Regions from separate parts of the Homo sapiens genome. Here region 1 is linked to region 2. Evidence: fine-mapped expression QTL. Tissue or cell type: whole blood. Region 2 holds a variant in brackets; the other region holds the start of a gene. All regions are shown on one strand. Distances are from middle to middle.

Region 1 (2,609 bases), 67 kb before region 2:
GCCAGGTTTGTGACCCATTTTACTTCTGGGAAACAGACTCAGAGAGCTCTAGGGACTTGTCCAAGGTAATACAGGTAACAGCCAGAATCTAAACCAATGTCTAGTTTTTCTACAGAGTGTGTTTTTACTACTGATAATTCAGTGCCTCCAAAGTCAGGCAGAGTCTCTGCTATGGGAAAGGCAAGATGTAAACCACGATGACTTTCTAGCTTTTCCTCAGTTCAGCCTGGTTCAGCAGCGTGTTGGCCTCTGTGTGGGTGCACAATAGGAAGAATCAACATAGCTCTGCCTCAGCCTACTTGGGGTTGTGGGGAGGGTCTTAGGTAAACCAATTCCTCCCTAAGCCTCAGCTTCCTCATCTGTAAAATGGGGGTTGGCTCCTCTCTGGCATTCTGCGAGTGTGCCAAGCCACGTGGTATTCCTCTTGTTCCCGGGGAGCCTGTTTGATGTGGGGTACCCTGGAGGCTGCAGGGCTGACGGCTCTCCTGGCTCATTAAGGTTCCCTACGGAGAAATACTGGTTTTGTGTTTGAGGTTCGAATTTGTAGAGCAATAGGGGCACTAATAACGTTGGGCAAGCAGACCGGTGGGCCCTTTGAAGTCTGAAGAATCAACGCGCAAAAGGGAGGAGGTGAGCAGGTGGTCGTTCAAACGTCAGGCGAGGGCACCAGCTGGATCTGGAGGAACTGAGACAGTGAAAGGAAAGCAGGCAAGGTTCTAGTCTGGGATATGCACGAATCGCGGTCTCCCTTCCCTCTCTATGCCTCCGCAGTCCTTCCCGTTCCCAAAGGAGGAACAGCCCGAGGGCTCCTGGAGCAACGGAAGGAGGACTGGATGCGGGGAAGGGCAAAGGGCGCGGAACGGGGTGGGGAGTCTGCGGGCGAGCTCGGAGGACACTGGCGCACCTCCCCCGCCGGCTCACGGCCGCATCCGCCACATCCGAAGGCGCCGCGACTTCCCGGAGACCCCGAAGCGTGCGCTCTCATCCGGGTCCTGCGGGCGCTGGCGGAAAGAGGCGAGGCGGTGCCTCCGGGGGCGGGGCCTCCTTCGGTTGGCGGCCTCGGGCTTCGGGAGTCCTCCAAGAGGCCAGGTGAGGCCGTCCCGTGATGCCCCGCGCCCCGGCCGCTCTGGCCTGCAACGTGTCTCTGGGGCGGAGGCAGCGGCAGTGGAGTTCGCTGCGCGCTGTTGGGGGCCACCTGTCTTTTCGCTTGTGTCCCTCTTTCTAGTGTCGCGCTCGAGTCCCGACGGGCCGCTCCAAGCCTCGACATGTCGTACAACTACGTGGTAACGGCCCAGAAGCCCACCGCCGTGAACGGCTGCGTGACCGGTGAGGCTGCCGGGGCCGGAGACCCCGGCGAGTGAGGGAGTTGGGGGGAGCCGCGGCCTAGGGAGGCCCGCCGCCCCGGGGGCGGCCGGGCAGGAGTGGGCCCGGCGAATGGAAGGCGCTGGCGGCCGAGGAACCTCCCCCAGCACCGCGACCTCGAAAGAGTCGTCCCTGTACGCGCTTTTTGGGGGTTGGAAGCCGCTCTCGAGGGTCCCCTTTCGTCCTGGGGAGGTCATTCGGCCTCGAGAACAGGGCGGGCCCAGTGAGACAGAGGAGTGTGAGTTGGTTGTGCGGTGTCGTTTGGGCCCGGAGATTGGCTTTCTGTGGCCAGGAAAAGGGGAGGTGGTAATGACGACTTTGGGGTCAAGATTTTCCTGTGGGGAAGTCTGGGGGGCCCAGGAGGTGGAGGGATGTGAGGAATGCCCGCATTATCCCACAGAGGGAGAGGAGCCCTCTTCAGGCTAACCCCTTTGCCTGGGGCTGTTGTTTACATGAGGGCCCTGCTGGAGAAGAGGGTTTGGTTTGCCTGGCCCAGTGCTGGGTTTGCCTTGTTGACGATGCGCTTGGATTGTTAAGGACACCGATGTTCAGAACCCGGGAAGAGTCATCTTAACCCACATTCTCAGCTGAATATGCAGACCCCAAGCTTGCATGTTTATATACACCCTAATCATGATTCCAAAACAAAACTGTTGTTCAGAGTTGGAGGTAGCTGAGTGTGGATGGAGGTATTGGTAGACTGCCAGGAGGGCAGGGGGTGTGGACAAAACAGTGTTTTCATATAAAGCTCTGGGACTTCTTCATTTGACTTGGTCTGTCAGATAAAAGTTTTGTGAGACTTTAGATGAAGACTGGAAGAAGTGAACACTTTCTCCGGCATTCTCAATTAGAGCCTGCCACTGTAACTGTAATAGAGTAAAATTGGAGGGGCAAGAGGCATGAGAAGGGATTACGCAGTCATTGTCATTTGGAGGACACACGGCTCTTAGGTCCAGTCCAGTTTTCTTAGTCTGATTAGGGAAGTAGCTTTGTTGAATGCATGAACTGAGACTCTTTGAGGTGCCGGATTTGGCAAGAAGGGGAGTAGCTGGAGGGAGTTGGAGAAGTATGTGAAGTAAATGAGAATTCTGGAGGTATTTAGACATAAGTGATAGGATTATTTTGAAGGGATGGGAGGCCCTTCCCCTGAGTTCAAAAGTTAGAGGGTCTGTTCTTTCAGGACACTTTACTTCGGCCGAAGACTTAAACCTGTTGATTGCCAAAAACACGAGATTAGAGATCTATGT
Region 2 (2,756 bases):
CAAAATCCAGAGACCTCCAAGACAAGGGATGCTTCTGGTTCATGGTGGAAGTCAGCTCCCTCCAGTCCTGCCCAGGGTGACCCTTTAGACAGGGCCAGAGAAATTTTTTTTGTTTGTTTTTGAGATGGAGCCTTGTTCTGTCACCCAGGCTCCCAGGTTGGAGTGCAGTGGTGTGATCTTGGCTCACTGCAACCTCCGCTTCCCGAGTTCAAGCGATTCTCCTGTGTCAGCCTCCCAAGTAGCTGGGACCACAGGCATGCACCACCACGCCTGGCTAATTTTTGTATTTTTGGTAGAGACGGGATTTCGCCATGTTGGCCAGGCCGTTCCTGAACTCCTGACCTCAGGTGATCTGCCCACCTCAGCCTCCCAAAGTGTTGGGATTACAGGCATGAGCCACTATGCCCAGCCCAGAGAAATATTTTTAAACCTGGCTGGCAAAGTCCTCTGCTTCCGGGTTACCCCCTAGAGAGAGTCTTAGGGATTCTTGATGAGGGTGGAGGTGAAACGCACAAACCCAGAATCCAGTACTGGAACCTTTTCAGTAGACCCATGTGGTCAAGCTCTTGCAGTGTGCCACGCCCTTCATAGGCATGCACTCAGCTAATCCATTCAAGAGTTTATCATCTCATTCTTCTGGATGAGAAAACCAAGGCACAGAGAGAGTCTTTGCTCAGATCCCGTAACTAGTTAATCAAAGTACTGAGAATGGAACCCTAGTATTGTGATTCTGAGATGCATATTTCTTCTCCTGGGTCATACTGCCTCTCAGTCTGAAAAAGCATGTCCCATAGTATCATTTAGTTTTTGGAAAATGAAAAAAAAATTGTTTTTTTTTTGAGACAGGGTGTTGCTCTGTCACCCAGGTTGAAGTGCAGTAGCGTGATCTTGGCTCACTGCAACCTTGACCTCCTGGGCTCAAGCGATCCTCCTATGTCAGCCTCCCAAGTAGGTGGGATCACACCCAGCTGGGATTACCACCACACCTGGCTAATTAAAAAATTCTTTTCATAGAGATGGGGTCGTGTTGTATTGCTCAGGCTGGTATGGAACTTCTGGGCTCAGGCAATCCTCGCACCTTGGCCTCCCAAGGTTTGGGGATTACAGGCATGAGCCACTGCACCCAGCCAAAAATTTTGTTTTTAGCTTTTTTAAAAATGTAGCTAAAAAATTTTACATAAAAAAATACTGAGACAGGATCTTGCTCTGTTGCCTAGGCTGGTCTTGAATTCCTGGCCTCAAGTGATCCTCCTACCTCAGCTTCCCAAAGTGCTGGATTATAGGTGTGAGCCACTATGCCTGGATGAAAAAAATAATTATTTTATTTTATTTTTTTTTTTTTGAGACAGAGTCTCACTCTGTC[G/A]CCAGGCTGGAGTGCAGTGGCACAATCTTGGCTCACTGCAACCTCCGCCTCCCAGGTTCAAACGATTCTCCCGTCTCAGCCTCCTGAGTAGCTGGGATTACAGGTGCGCACCACCACGCCCAGCTAATTTTTGTGCTTTTAGTAGAGTCGGAGTTTTGCCATGTTGGCCAGGCTGGTCTCGAACTCCTGACCTCAAATGATCCTCCTGCCTCAGCCTCCCAAAATGTTGGGATTACAGGTGTGAGCCACCACTCCGGGTAAAAAAATTCTTCATGCTTAGCATGCTGACGCCCTGAATGCGGGATGACGCTGCTTTGCTGGTGTGGGTGCAGATGCGGTATTTCTTTGGTGATCAGTGAGCCTCAGCAGAGTACATGCGTGACAAGGGACACGGTCTGCAGAAAGATTGAGAAACTCACGGTAAACAGCCCTGAGCTACTTACCCTGAGTGACCCACTGCACGTAGGCCCTAGTTGTTCTCAGCCTCGGGCTTTGGGGAACTTTGGCCCCTGGATCTTTCTCTATCGGGTTTTGGTGCTTATCTTTTCTGGGCAGTTTATGCAACAGGCACCCGTTAACAGATGCCCTCCGTGGACAAGTCCATGTTCTTACCTTCGAGGGGCTTGAATTCTAGTGGGAAGTTGGACCCCAACAGAGAAAATGCGCCCCCTGCCCCACTGCCCCACCATGGACTCCTCCCACAATGTTGATTGTTCTGATGGACACTCAGTGGCTATAGGAGCGGCATCTTCCTGAGTGTCTTGTCAGCTGCCCTGAACCGAGGGCCTTGTGTGTTTTCTGTGTCCTGCAGCTGGGCTCAGTGGCCTGTTCCCCCGTGGACTGCCCCATCACCTGTACCTACCCTTTCCACCCTGACGGGGAGTGCTGCCCCGTGTGCCGAGGTGAGTGGGACCAGCTGCCCCACGTGCCAGGTTCCCGGCCAGGCCTCGGCTCTCATGGGCTCCTGTCTCCCCTTCCTCCACAGACTGCAACTACGAGGGAAGGAAGGTGGCGAATGGCCAGGTGTTCACCTTGGATGATGAACCCTGCACCCGGTGCACGTGCCAGGTGAGCTGGGCCTGGGAACCCAGGAGCGGCCCCGCCAGAGGGCAGCTTCTTGCCTTTTGTCCCTTTGCAAAACATGGAGCCCTTTAGCCAGCATAAATCCATCCTCCTGCCATCCTCCGCCTTTAATTAACTGCCAGAATATCTTTGGTTTTGACCATCTCCTCCCTCTGTGGAAGTCCAGAGGGAGAAGTGGTTTCCCAAAGGGGGTCCTGCCATAGCTGGCTTTACCTGTTCTCCAGGCGAGGGCTCAGGCACTGCAGCCTCTGTCCTGGGATCTTTCCGTGGGTCCTGCTGCTGGTGCAAGAGGCCCTTGAGGGCACTGCCC

Evidence for each region. PIP is the estimated chance that this variant, and not a neighbour inherited with it, causes the effect.
Region 1: DDB1 starts here. The variant in region 2 is fine-mapped to the expression of DDB1 in whole blood (TOPMed, PIP above 0.99).

What each region holds. Positions count from the first base shown.
Region 1 is chr11:61,331,625-61,334,233 of GRCh38, reverse strand. DDB1 (damage specific DNA binding protein 1) reads left to right here and starts at 1,129. Exons shown (of 27, transcript NM_001923.5): 1 at 1,129-1,326; 2 at 2,543-2,609. The coding sequence starts at 1,266. TKFC (triokinase and FMN cyclase) reads right to left here and starts at 1,006. Exons shown (of 18, transcript NM_015533.4): 1 at 905-1,006. RefSeq lists enhancers at 522-1,044, 1,045-1,567 and a silencer at 867-1,126.
Region 2 is chr11:61,264,631-61,267,386 of GRCh38, reverse strand. It overlaps VWCE (von Willebrand factor C and EGF domains), which reads left to right. Exons shown (of 20, transcript NM_152718.2): 17 at 2,175-2,265; 18 at 2,349-2,431. Among named protein-coding and RNA genes, the nearest start is that of PGA5, 25 kb to the right of the region's middle. RefSeq lists an enhancer at 1-1,071. The variant G/A (reference allele first, on the strand shown) is at 1,364.